3 linked regions of the Homo sapiens genome follow. The protein of the gene in region 3 purifies or fractionates together with the protein of the main gene of each other region. This does not show direct contact. Each region holds a gene or a part of one and is shown on either strand. Other genes may lie near its edges.

Region 1 (3,722 bases), on a different chromosome or scaffold from region 3:
TTTTTCTTCTTGCAAAATTTGTTCACATAAAAAAATTATTTTTCTTTCCAGTTTCTTTCAAGTGTTTCTTTGTTTAAATTTCCTTCAGTTTCTTTCAAGTATCTTTTTTTCCCTTCTGTTCTCCTGGACAGATCAAAAGGCCTCACTGAAATCCCAAAATTAGACATGGGGAAAACTTCTCTTCTCCCTGCTTACCCAGCAATGAGGACAGAATCCTTGGTGCCCCACTGTGGAAGAAGGAATGTGCCTGTGTGCAGCCTTCCACTGCTGTGGCCACACCATCTCAGGCAGGGAGAACGCTTGGGTCTGTCCTTTCGTCCCCAGCTACATCCCAGTTTCCAGCAGGCTTGGACACTGCAGCCTCCCCATGGCAAATTGGCCAGACTCGGCTGGAGAGCAAGCAGGCGATGGGGAGCATCAGATGGAAGGCCTTCTGTGAACAGCTGGCCCACAGAGAGGCGGTGGGTAGGAGCTGGGCCTGGATGGAGCCTGTGTTCATGTGGACCAGAAAACAGTTCCATGTCACCAGCTGCAGGATCCAGAGGAGCTTGTGTTCCATGCTGTGCATCTTGATGACCCAAGCCTGAAGGTCACAAGGGTGGCACAGTGGGGGAGGGCTTAAGCACCTGGAAAAACTGTACCTCCGGCGAGCTCACGTTTCGCCATCTCTTCTGGTCCACTGCCTCTCCTGAGGGACTGTTCCTGGAAGGAAGCGCCTATGTCTGTACCAGATCCCTGCCCCACCACATCCCATCCTCTGCCTTAGATGGTGAGGAGAGGGATGCAGCCCACACCGACCCCTCCCTCATGGCACGCCATGGGGGCCATGAATGTCCAGCAGTCTGTCTCTGGGTCATACATCTCCACTGAGCTTAGGTTTGACTGTCCGTCGTAGCCCCCAACAGCGTAGAGGCGCCCACAGCTGGCCACCAGGGAGACCCGGCTCCTGCGCGTGTGCATGGGGACAATCAGGCACCACTGGTCTGCCACAGAGCTGTACATCTCGGCAATGCTGAGGAAGCCAGAGCCATCGTAGCCCCCGCAGACAAACATCTTGCTCCCCAGGGAGGCGGCTCCGTGCCGGCAGCGCTTGTTGAGCATGCCAGCTGCAGGGTGCCAGGTGGCTGTGTGGTGGTTGTAGTGTTCCACCTGCAGTGGGGAGAGAGGCACAGGTACAGGACAGTCAGAGGCAAAGCTCAGTCCATGGAGTGACCGTGCAGGGCACAGCAGCCCCCCATGATGTCAAACTCCTGTGGGAGGTATGGGGACAAGGAGCTCTCCCAGTATTCCCTCTGCTGCAGGCCTGCTCTTTGGTGTATGGGGACAGGGAGAGGTCACCTCACCTAACCCTTTCTGTTTGCATCTAAGGAAACAAAAAGGATGTGCCCAAGGATGCAATGCTAGGTAGTGACAGAACCTGTATGAGAGCTGGGTCTCCTGTAATCTCCAGGGCTCTCCACTGCAGCACTGACTGACTATGGAATGACTAGTAAATGGCTGTTGAGCCTTTTTTACAGAATAAATACAATTTCAAACAAATTATCCAAAAGAATACAACTGTTTGCAAATTTACACTTGGTCTATAACTGAACTTACTTTGGGCAGGAATCTCACAAGTTCTATGTAGTGTTCAACAGACAGTAGAACAGGGTGGTGGCTGCAGATGTGACTACCCTTTGCCCTTCTTTTGTGTACACTGGCTCATTCTCTGGAAGTTCAGAATTTCAGAAGGTGCAGTGGATAGCCTGAAACCTCACTAGATGATACTTTATTCAGCTGTGGCAAGGCTGAAGTTTTTTCAAATAATGATCTTCTAAAATAAATCTCAAAGACAGAAGTAGGTACCCTTATCCCAGGGGGAGCCCAGACTCACACTGCTGAAGATCTGCAAACCATCATGGCCGCCTGACACATATATCCTGCCCTCAAAGACTGTAACCCCAGCAGCACTGCGATTCGAGCTCATCGAGGTCACCACTGTCCATCTTCAGGAAAGAGTCAAAATAGGAGGGGAAGCATGAGATTCAGGGTTCTTGTTCCCTCAAGACAGCCTAGCAGGGTTTAGGTGAACTGTGCTGGCCATCTCTCCATCTCTTATCACCTCTCCCACCACCTCTCTGACAGTTCTCCCTGGCTGCCGCCTCTCACCCAAGCTGCAAACCCACAGCCCATCTTCTCTGCTCATCTCCATGGCTGCTCAAAATCATTGTCTCATACAAGACCTCTTTCTCCTACAGTTCTGCTCCTCCCTGCACTCCCTGCCTTGTTAAGCAGACCACCAGCCCTCTAGCTGCTGTACTTATAAAGCTCAGTGCTATTCTGGCTGCTTCTCCCTCACCATCAACATTCCTGTGGTCCCCCAAGTCCTGGCTGGTTTGCTTCCTAGTCAGTGCTTGCTCCCATCCCCACTACCAGTGCCCTACCCCTGACCTCTCATCTGGACCACTGCAACAGCCTCTTTACAGGCAGCCTGGCTTTCCTACCAGTCCCATCCGACCCCACCCAGCCAGAGGGATTGCTCCTCCTGTACCTGCACCATGTCCGTCCAGTGGCTCCTCACTGTCTCCTCTAAGAGAATCCAGGTTCCTTCATGTGGTTTTTAATTTTTTTTTATTTTTGAGACAGGGTCTCACTCTGTCACCCAGGCTGGAATGCAGTGGTGCTATCATAGCTCAATGCAGTTCTGACCTCCCAGAATCAAGCAATCTTCCTGCCTCAGCCTTCTCAGTAGCTGGGACTAGAGGCTTATGCCACCATGCCTGGCTAATGTTTTTTTCTCTCTCTCCTTTTTTTTTTTTTTTTTTTTTAAAAGAGACAGGGTCTCTCTTATGTTGCCTAGGCTGGTCTCAAACTCCTAGGCTCAAGTTACCTTCCTGCCTTGGCCTCCCAAAGTGTTAGGATTACAGGCGTGAGCCACTGTGCCCAGCCCTTCATGTGGTTCTTCACCTCTTGGTCCTCAACCACCCTTCAGCTTCACCCCACACCACATGCCACCCACCCTGCTCCGTCTCCCATCCACACGCTGTGCTCTAGCCCATGAGAGGATCATTGCTGTTCTCGATTACAGTGAACACTTTCTTATTGCAGCCTCACTCCTTGTTGTCTCCCTATGATGAGCAAACACCTCCCATTGGCTATCCATGACAGGTCTCACCTTGGAAGACATCCCTGCTACCCTGTCCCTTCCTGCAACCCTGGGGAAGATGAAGGTTCTCTCTGCTCTGTGCCCAAGAGCTTCTGACACAGGCCTCCAGGGTAGGATGATCATGATGCAACCCATGGCCCAACCACATTGGATGCTTTAAAGGATCTCAGACACCCAGCTTGCTGTCTGATCCACAGTAGATTGGTCAAGTGAACAGAATACTGGCTTAAAGGCATCCTAATAAGTCCATTCAACTAATTTGTTTATATTTTATTATATAAGATGAGAGGATTCAAATACTGAAATGAAAAACTCGGGCTAACCTTGTCAATGTTTTTCAAAGAGTGTTCCACAAATGAGTCCCACAAGATGGTGACTGTTGTGTATATAAAACCCGAGGTTAAACAGAGTTATTTACTGCAGGGTTTCTTAGAGTCTTTAAAATGTTAATATATCTTATGGAAAGACAAGGACTCTGGCAGTTCAGACATCAACATTTCCCAAGCCTATCTGACCACAGAACTTAAAAACATTTTTTTTTTTCCAAATCATATCCTACCCACTTTGGAACATGCTG
Region 2 (4,536 bases), on a different chromosome or scaffold from region 3:
GTATATATATGCACACATACAGAAATAGAAAATTGTGTGTCAAAAATATACACACTTCCACCTACATATACACTTACTGAGATATAGTAGCTGTAATTTTTATAGGCAGCTCAAGAAATCAAGAAAATATATTTATTCCATGATTCCCCCCAAACCAAGCACATAATGTGTAGTATCCCCAAACTATTTTTAGTTGTTATGTACAAATTATGTGGAAAACTAATGAACACATAAAGATGGGAAAGGGGAAGGAACTGAATCATGGTATAATAAGAATAATAAAACATTTTTCTATTTAAAATGCATTTAGTGAACTTGACACATTGCCCTTCATTATTAAACAACTTAAAAGACTTTCCAAGTATTTGTCTACCTATCTTGAATCAATTTCATCACTCAGATTAATTGACTCATATAATATTACCCAAAAGGTAATGTTAAATGACTACAAGCCCACCAGGGCATATGAAAATGTGTGTATAACACACACACACACAAACACACACACACACACACACACAGTCTGCGTATCTAAAAGTTTAGTTATATTTTCCAGTTGAACATAAATATGTAGTATAATAAATAATAAAATATAATTATCCTTTATTAACAGTTTCAAGAAAGGTAGGATCACAAAAATGAAACATAATTGATGGCTGGTAGGTGTAAAAAATATGTAAAATTAGTTTATTCTACTGATTTCATAATTGGATGGCATATTCTACTAACAGAGCAGCAAGGGTGCAAAGATTGAAATTTAAACCCCTAATTAAGCAGTAGTTTGACAGTTCTAATGTCCTGTACCTGCTTGACACCATGACTCAGTAAGCAATCTCAAATGAAAATTAATACCGTCTATAGTATAATCTTAGTTATAAGTAACAGCTGATCGTGTTTAGAAAATGAAAACCTCAAGTGTTCAAAAATGCTTGTGCTCACCAAAAACAACAAAAACTTCTATATAGTTTTACTCATTCAAGAAACAGCAATTTGTAATAATAAAAAATGGTTTGTGGATTCACTTACAACATCTTGATTACTGTCATTTGATCATAACACAACTGCAACCAACCCGGCTGCCATGTCAGCTTCTCTTCAGGGGCTAGGTCTTTAGTCATAAATCAATGAAATGACTAATTCAATGACTAATGCTTGCAGCCATTCCAGTTTTTGCATCTCACAAAATGTCAATATAGCTACTCAATAACACAATAGACTTATCTTTCAAAATGCTTCCTTCTTTTCTAGGGTTGAAAAATAACACATTACCATTTACATTTAGGGTGAACTTCAGTAACTAAAGTGTTCAATACTTCTGAAATGGTGACCTGCTAAAATAACAACAGTTTTAGTCTCCTCTTGTGGCCAAAGTCACAAACCTCTCCTCTCCTCTTTCTTGATGGTTTAAAATAGTTTTCCAGATCTAAAAGACCCATGAAAGTATTTATTACTGTTTCCTGCATCAGTCTTATTTGCTATAGTAACATTACATGTTAATCTTAAAAAACAAAAACTTTTTCTTTTGCTAAAGAAGCAACTAATAATGCAAATGGAGCTTAGATGTAAACATTACCAAAAAACAAGATGCTAACACAATTAAAAGGATTTAGTAGTTAAAATGGATTTTAACTATTTACATCTGCTTTCAGTGTTATAAATGATGAAAACCTAGTGTTCATATCCCTCATAATAAAAATTTATTCTGCACTTTAATACAAAGGCTATGTTGCATAAACAGAGAGGATTTAAAGCTGTAGCAGAGTGGCTGAATGAAAGGAAAATGGCAATCTTTCTGGCTCCAGTAGATGCCATTCCCTATCACACAATATTTCCCACTCATAAATATATGACAAATACTTCCTCAATCATTTTTTACGAGCAGGGATGCACAGGGGGTAGTCAATGGCTAGCTTGAGGGAAAATAGGAACAGCAGGCGGCAGAAACTGTACAGAAAATGGCTATGTGGTAAATTCTCTTCTGGAACATCATTCAGTTACCCAGTCTTTGATCTTTCAGCTACAATTACACTAACTTCCACAAGATCTGGATCCCTCCCAACCCTCCCCCCAAGACATACACACACCAACCCCAAGCCAGATCATTAGTTATACATAAAACCTATTAAGATTTGGTTTTATAAAATAGGATCATTCATACCTCTACATTATTATAAATTAAAATTTGCTATTTAGACAAGGGTTTACTTTCAATTGGCTATAACCATGTCATCATCACAACTGGTCTCACAAAAAACATGGGGTGTCTGGCGACAGCTAAATCACAGACTGGCGTCTCCTAAGCAGTCTGTCTACCATTAGGGTCTGGGAAATGGTATTTACTATACAATTAGAGCCAGGGAGTTCTACCTGTAATCATCCAAATACAGGTGTGAGAAGTCCCTTTGGGCAAGGAAACTGACTCATCCCTTTTCATGTAAACTTTGATGTCTGTATTGTTTCACAGAGCCTCAGGAAACCTTACCATTCATACCACAATGAGAAGATTTATTAACTGAGGTCAAGTAATAAATTTTAAAATTCATTCCTAAAGGTAACAATTTTTAACACATTAATCATCAAATTTATAAGAATTTGAAAGGCGACAGAACTGATTATTTTAAAGTTAATTACCTGATGGAGGATACTGACCAGCTGAATGAAATCTTTATGTTAAATTTATGCTTTTTAGAACATTACCAATAAAGAGGCTAAATTCATCTTCCTATCAGGAACACAAAATGTCTTATAGTAATATCAACAGGGCATTTTTAGTTGCAGTAATTTCACAGAATTTATTCTAATGATTTATTGGAGTTAACCATCTGACATTAATTATTGTTTTGGCTTCCAGTCTATGAATGTTTATTTTTCAGTTTAAAGCCTTCTCACTCTTTGATATCATATGGAAATGAGAATTTTTAATGGAAAATTGAAACCATGTGCATCTAAGTACTTAATGAAGTACAGGGAGAAACAGACAATATAGTTTAGGAGAATTCAGATATTTTGCTTTGGATAGTTTTGATTTGTTTGTATGACTCAATAGTATAAAATACTTAAGAGTCCAGTGAGGCAAGTCAAAGTGAGTGGTATGCCAAATGTGGACATGCCCACAGGTACATGAACATATAATTTTCTGAAGTTATCAGTGATAGTAACAAATCTTGTACATTTTGGTTACATGCCAAAAATGACAATCAATACATGAATGCATAGTTTTTACCTCGATGTACTTTTAAAGCATTTGAAACAGGTACTGGTCTTTCCCCACACACAGTCTTTTTTTTTTTTTTTTTAAAGCATTCAATCTGGATTTTAAAATTCATGCCCAGCTACAACCCCAGGTGGGTATTTTAAAGTCACTTATAATATCAACACAGCTAGAAATTCCTAGTGTAAGAAGTTTTATTGTTGTGACTACATTTATTCTCATTTTGCAATGGAAATAAACGATAATGTCTAATAAACTTACATTTGATAAGTAAATGTATATAATTCAATATTGCTTATTTAATTCAGTTTTTCTTAAGTTCTCTAAGTCAATTAGAAGACTCATCTGTGAAGGTAAATACCAAGCACAGCTTTCTCATCCATTTTAAACTTTTTAATAAGGAGAAAAATATTAAAATTAAACATTGCCGTTAAGTACATATATGTGGGTGTGTGTTTGTGTGTGTACAGAGATGATGCATCTGGGTATATCTGGTGAGGAAAAACTTACCATTTGTTTTTCTTTCTAATGTAGTCTTTTTCAGAAAGATTAACCAAGTAGACCATTGGTTTTGAAGTCAAAAATAAGTGTTTATTCAACACTTCAATCTAAAGTGGGAGATGGAGAAAGAATCCCTTTTAAAAGTTTAGTAAATATGGAGTAAATCACTGAAGAATTTGAAAGTAAACATTCCTTAAAACAAGTAGGCATTTTCATTTTTATAATTCTTCTTTCCAAAAGATTAGTGGTTATGAAATATCATGAGTGGGGGAAAAGAAAAAAATAACAAGCCCAGGAATAAGCAATCACTGACAGAAATAAAAATTTAGATATAATGGTAAGTGTAAAATAACAACAACTCTAATTTGTTCCCTAGCAAATGAAAGCAAAGGCAGTAATAGATGGCATGATATTTACAACTTACCTCTTTGTCATTCCAATCATGATAGAAGCGAACAGGTTTCTTTTGATCTATAACCCAGGATTTTACTTTGCACATTATATCCTACACATGATTGAGAAAAAGGTAAATATATATGAATAACTAAACATTTAGATACTAAATATTAAAAAGTTTTCAAATTTTCAAAATAAAAATAGATTGTTTTAATGAAAGGGGGCTAGGTCACACAAATAATTATTTTCAATATCTCATTTAAAAACCAATTACTAATAAAACATTGTGGCATTAAATTTTTAATGTATAAAATGGACAATATTAGCAAAAATTAGTAACAGCCTGAAAAATGTCAAGACAATTCAATTACATCAAAGACTAATACAAGAGTTACTACCATTTCAATATTACCTAGTGATGCCATATA
Region 3 (5,267 bases):
CATATTCCTGTGTCCCTGTCCCTCCCTGGTTGGCCAGTATGTAATGTTCTCATGTTTGAGAGAGCTGCTATAGGTTTGCTGGGTGGGTGTGAGTTGCTTGAGGACAGCAGCTGTGTCATTTGTCTTTGTACTCCTCCTCCTCCACCCCCACCCCAGCCCCCAGGCCTAGCCTAGTGTAGTAGGCTCCAGTAAATGTTCATGGGGCAGATGAATACAGCATGAGTGGATGACATTCCTAATACATAAGCACATCTGCTTCTCAGATCCTATTTCAGTTTTGCTTTTTTTTCAAAGCATAGTCCTCAGGCTTCTTGCATCAACACCAGCGAGCCCAGGAATCCTTGTTAAACCTGCAGACCCACAGCCCCCCAACCAGGCCTGCTGGAGCAGGGGCTTCCCCTCCCTTACACTGTTCGTGGTCTCCCTCCCAGAAAGCCCCCTTTCCCTGTCCTAACCTCAAGGCTAAACCCTCATCCCCCTTTGGGGCCCCACCCAAGCCCTGCCTCCTCTGAGCAGCTCTCCCTGATCCTTCCCCATCCTTGTTCCATCTTATCCCGCCTGAGTTCATCCTGTTAATCCCATCCCCCTGCCAGATCTGGAGCCCTGGGCAAGGACTGCACCTTCCCCTCATGTGCCCTACCGCACAGCCTGGCACAAGGAGGGCGGGTGCAGGTACTCAGAAAATAGCCTGAACATGGCCAAATAGAAAGAACCAGAGCCTCCAGGCCCCCCACCTGCGAGTTAGGGTTGTTTCCGAGTTTTCTTTCTTGGGTTTCATCTGAAATGAGAAGGAAAGGCATTGTTGTGTGGGAGTCCCCGGGAAATCGGTGGCCCCCTCGAGTGAGGAGCCCAGCTCTCAAGACATGTCCTCCTCCTCTTCAGACCTCCCACCCCTTCTACCAGGGGTCAACCCCACCAAAGAAATATGTGGACAAGCCTTCGTTAAAGATCCTTGTTTGTATCTGGAAGACACAGGTTCCCACCCACTAATATGGGTCAGAAGACTTTCTTCAGACTTCCTTCGCAGGGCACCTGTAACCACCTGTTTCCTATCTGCCTCCCACTGCCCATGAGCTCTGTGGGGGCACCAGTCGCTATTGGGCCACCTCTCCAGGGCCTGGCACACATTAGAGGCATGATACCCAATGATTGAGTGAATGACCCAGTGAACAGAAGAACCAAGAATAAACACCAGGACAAAGCAAGACGAGATTTCCCCAATCCACATAGTTTGTACTATTGGGAGAGTGGCAGGGCAGGGAGCAGTAGGAGAGCCTTGCTGCTCTCTGTTCCTCCCCTCCCCTCCTAGACAAGTCTCCTAGGTGAGGCCAGGAACTGATGAAGGCAGGTGTGGACCTCCCTGCAGCCCAGGGCCAGCCCTGCCTGTCCGGTCTTCATGCAGCCCTGGCCTTGCCCACTAGGTGGGGCTGCTCATGCTTACTGGCACCTACCCCCCAGGTTACTAACCTGTTCTCCTCTGCTGAATACAACCTTGTTTGTTCAGGGCCACCCATGGGAATCCAAAGCTCCTCTCTATCCAGGGGACCTTCCTACCTAACCTACGGCTCCTATGTTGTAATGGATGCGGGCTTCCTCCACTTGCCCTCCAGTGGCTCGCAGACCAGGGTGCCCAGGGCTCTCACCCGAAAGGAGATGGTCCTGGGGCTGGAGCGTTTGAGGGAGCTGCTGTAGGTTCGCTGTGTGGGTGAGGACATATCTGCCTCTTCCTCCTTGCTGGGGATTTTCACCTGGATGGAGCAGGGGGAGTGTCACATAAGAGGTCTAGGGCCCATCAAGCCGGGGCAGCCATAAACCCCATGGCTCACCCCAGGAGCTGCAGGAAGAGGGGAGAATGAGACAGCCCTGTGCCTTCTCTCCTGCCTCCTTCATCTGCTGTGGGAGTGGCTCACAGACAAAGTCCCTTGGGGCCAGGGCACCAGGCAGAGCTTTCCAGGGGAGCTTCTAGAAGGATCTGAGGCTCCCCACTAGTCTGCCGGGGTCCTGGAGCCCAGGCCCTGGATGAGGATATGGTGGGGGGCACCAGATGCTCCCTGCCCCACAGCTGGTGCCCCTTTAAGCTCCAGCAGCCTGCCCCATCTCAGCCTCCCTGCTCTGACCATGGCTAGAAGCAGGCAGGGAAAGAAGAGACTTCCAAGGCCAGCCTGCAGGTAGGAGGATGGAGGCAGCCAGGGAACCAGGGACTACCTGGGTGGGACTGGCCGGCAGTGCCAGCCAGGTGGCAGAGTAGAAGGGTGGGAGGGACGGGACACTGCCAACCTGGAGTGTGACGGGTGGGAGGCGGGAGGCCACAGTCGGAGGGTCTGAAGCCCCCTGCTTTGCCAAAGAGGGCAGGTTCTTCCCAGGGAGGGCCCTTCCTCTCTGCTCCTTGGTGGTGGCTGGGCTTCCCCCAGAGGCTGGCGGCTCCTGCGCCAGGGGCTGCTCTGAGGCTGTGGCCCTCTTTGGGGCCGGCTTAGCATCTGCAGTTGGGCTCTTCTCTGAGGCCAGTGCCTTCTCAAAGATGGAAGCTTTCTCAGACACCAGCCTCCTTCCTGAGCCCAGTGCCATCCCTGGGGCCAGCGACTTCTCAGAGACACTGGTTTTTTCTAGAACAGACTTCTTCTCTGAGCTGTTTCTTTTCTCTGACACTGCTATCTTCTCTGATAGAGATGTCTTCTCTGAGGCCAGCACCTTCTCAGAGATGGAGGTTTTATCGGAGACCAGGCTCTTTTCAGGTGCCGTCTTCTTTGGCATGGAGGACTTCTCCAAGACTGGGGACTTTTCTGGAACCCCTTTCTTCCTCTCTTCTGGCTCCCTGCCCACCAAGCTCTCCTCCTCCAGGGCCCAGGGGCCCCGCTGTTCCCGACTCAGTCTCCGGCGAGGTGGGATTTCCAGTTCCTTCTTGGAGACTAGGGGTTTCTGTGTGGCCTGCACAGGGCTCAAGCTGTTCCTCCCCTCCTCTGCCTCCAGCCTCTCCTGGATGGGGGCCTGTGCAGCCTCCACCACCTGCCGCCTCTGCCTCCGCTCCTGCCGTGTTCTGAGGATGCTCTGGATGTCCTCGTCCTCATCTTTGGAGGCTGGGGGCAGTGGCTTGGGCACCTCTGCTTCTTCCACGCTCGGTAGTCTGAATCAGAAGATGGGAGACAGAATCAGAGGATAGAGGTGGAAGATACCCTAAGTATACCTAACCCAATGGAGATGCTGCCAGGGCCACCAAGGAGGAGGTGAGGATGTCAGGCCCTGGCCTCCCCGGCTCACCACCACCTTTATCCACTCGATATATTGCACTTCCAAGGTATCATCTGAGCAAAGCACACTATGCTTTTTAAAAAGCTTATAAATTCCTATGAAGTCCAACGACTCCATGTTCAGACGTAGTCAACAGACTCTGAATAACTGCTTTAATATGTGCCAGAGCCTGCTTGGGGCATTGGGGATCAAAAGGAATAAGCACAGTCTCTGCCCCTTAGATCTTAGATCAAGACTAGAGATGTCCAGGGATTTTGTCAAGGTCACACAGCTGATTCGTGGGGGAGCTGGGAGCAGAACCTAAGTCTTCCGATGCACCATTCCACACTCCTGTCAGTCTTGTGGGTGCAGCCAAGACTAGGTGACAGCCACAGGTACTGGTGCAGCCCAGCTCTGGACATCCTCCAGAGTCTGCTGCCGGGCAAGGCTGGGGGAGGGGAGGACAGGAGAGGAGAGGGTCATCACAGCCCTGTTCTCCCTTCTTGGGGGACCCAAAGAAACAAAAGTAACATGAGAGGATTGTCCATAACCCACAGCACCTGGCCTCCAGCAAAAGGAGATTATTTTCCTTCCTCATCACCCTGCTCTCCATGTGCTTTCAGGCAAGTTAACTTACTGTCGGAGCCTCAGTTTTCACATCTACAAACTGGGCTTGTTAGGAAGCAAAATGAGACTCATGAGGGTGCCCAGGACAGTCCTGGCATGTAGGTGGCATTCAGTAAACCCCAGGCTCTTCCCCCACCTCATAATCCCAAAATCTAGATGGCAAAACTAGCCCCAAGGTTCTTCTCCTCAGAAGTAAATTATAGGCCGGTGCAGCGGCTCACACCTGTAATCCCAGCACTGGGAAGTTGAGGCTGGTGGATCACCTGAGGTCAGGAGTTCAAGATCAGCCTGCCCAACATGGTGAAACCCCATCTCTCCTAAAAATACAAAAATTATCCGGGCATGGTGGCAGGTGCCTTTAATCTCAGCTACTCGGGAGGCTGAGGCAAAATAGCTTGAACCTGGGAGGCGGAGGTTGCAGTGAGCCAAGATTGCGCCACTGCACTCCAGCCGGGGTGACAGAGCAAGACTCCATCTCAAAAAAAAAAAAGGCAGCTGGGCACGGTGGCTCATGCCTGTATTCCCAGCACTTTGGGAGGCCAAGGCAGGTGGATCATGAGGTCAACAGATCGAGACCATCCTGGCCAACATGGTAAAACCCCATTTCTACTAAAAATACAAAAATTAGCTGGCTGTGGTGGTGGGTGCCTGTAGTCCCAGCTACTCAGGAGGCTGAGGCAGAAGAATTGCTTGAACCTAGGAGGCGGAGCTTGCAGTGAGCTGAGATCGCGCCACTGCACTCCAGCCTAGCGACACAGCGAGACTTCGTCTCAAAAAAAAAAAAAAAAAGAAGTAAATTATAGAGGGTCAGGGTTAGAAGAAGGCAGCCTGGATAATGGAAGGAGGCGGGAGCTTGACAGATCTGGATGGACATTCTGGCCCTGCCACTCTTGAGGTACGTGACCTCAGCAAGTCACCTAAGTACTTTTCAACCCTGTTACTCCACCTGTAAAATGGGTTAACAATACCTCTCTCTCAGGGACATTGTGTGGATTACGTGAGCTATGGCCATAAAATGTCCAGCACAGTATTGGCTCATGGATGGTCTACAAATAGTAGCAAGCATTGTTATGAAGAGGATGGAAGCTGGCAGGACTGAGTCTGGGGAAGGTGGGGAACTGGAAATTCATCATCACACCCTTCAGCCTCATTTCCTGGGCCCCAACTCCCTGAGCAGACTGAATATGCTGCACTTAGTCTGAGGCAACCAGTCCATCCCCATCCATCAGGATAGAAACCTGAGCACCTACCTCTCAGAAGCAGAGGCCTGCCGGTCTCCATTCTGGCTGAGCCTGGGAGCCTCATCGTCCGTGGTGGAGCTCAGGTTGCGGTGCCGCCGCCTGCGCTCGCGCTCCTGTTCCTCCTCATCCTCCAGAGTCCTCTGCCGGGCAAGGCTGGGGGAGGGGAGGAGAGGG

What was found. Proteins that work in one complex are often made in the same cells at the same time.
Region 1: the proteins of LAD1 (region 3) and KLHL18 purify together in Homo sapiens (affinity purification with mass spectrometry; one large-scale study listed by BioGRID and IntAct). This does not show direct contact.
Region 2: the proteins of LAD1 (region 3) and OLA1 fractionate together in Homo sapiens (co-fractionation; one large-scale study listed by BioGRID). This does not show direct contact.

What each region holds. Positions count from the first base shown.
Region 1 is NC_000003.12:47,340,982-47,344,703, reverse strand, and holds part of KLHL18 (kelch-like protein 18), read right to left. Parts: intron 1,986-3,722; coding exon 1,874-1,985; intron 1,150-1,873; coding exon 763-1,149; 3' UTR 1-762. UniProt on the Homo sapiens protein: Substrate-specific adapter of a BCR (BTB-CUL3-RBX1) E3 ubiquitin-protein ligase complex required for mitotic progression and cytokinesis.
Region 2 is NC_000002.12:174,119,459-174,123,994, forward strand, and holds part of OLA1 (obg-like ATPase 1), read right to left. Parts: intron 4,218-4,536; coding exon 4,137-4,217; intron 3,820-4,136; coding exon 3,722-3,819; intron 1-3,721. UniProt on the Homo sapiens protein: Hydrolyzes ATP, and can also hydrolyze GTP with lower efficiency. Has lower affinity for GTP.
Region 3 is NC_000001.11:201,384,058-201,389,324, forward strand, and holds part of LAD1 (ladinin-1), read right to left. Parts: intron 5,247-5,267; coding exon 5,103-5,246; intron 3,122-5,102; coding exon 2,278-3,121; intron 1,749-2,277; coding exon 1,644-1,748; intron 779-1,643; coding exon 735-778; intron 1-734. UniProt on the Homo sapiens protein: Anchoring filament protein which is a component of the basement membrane zone.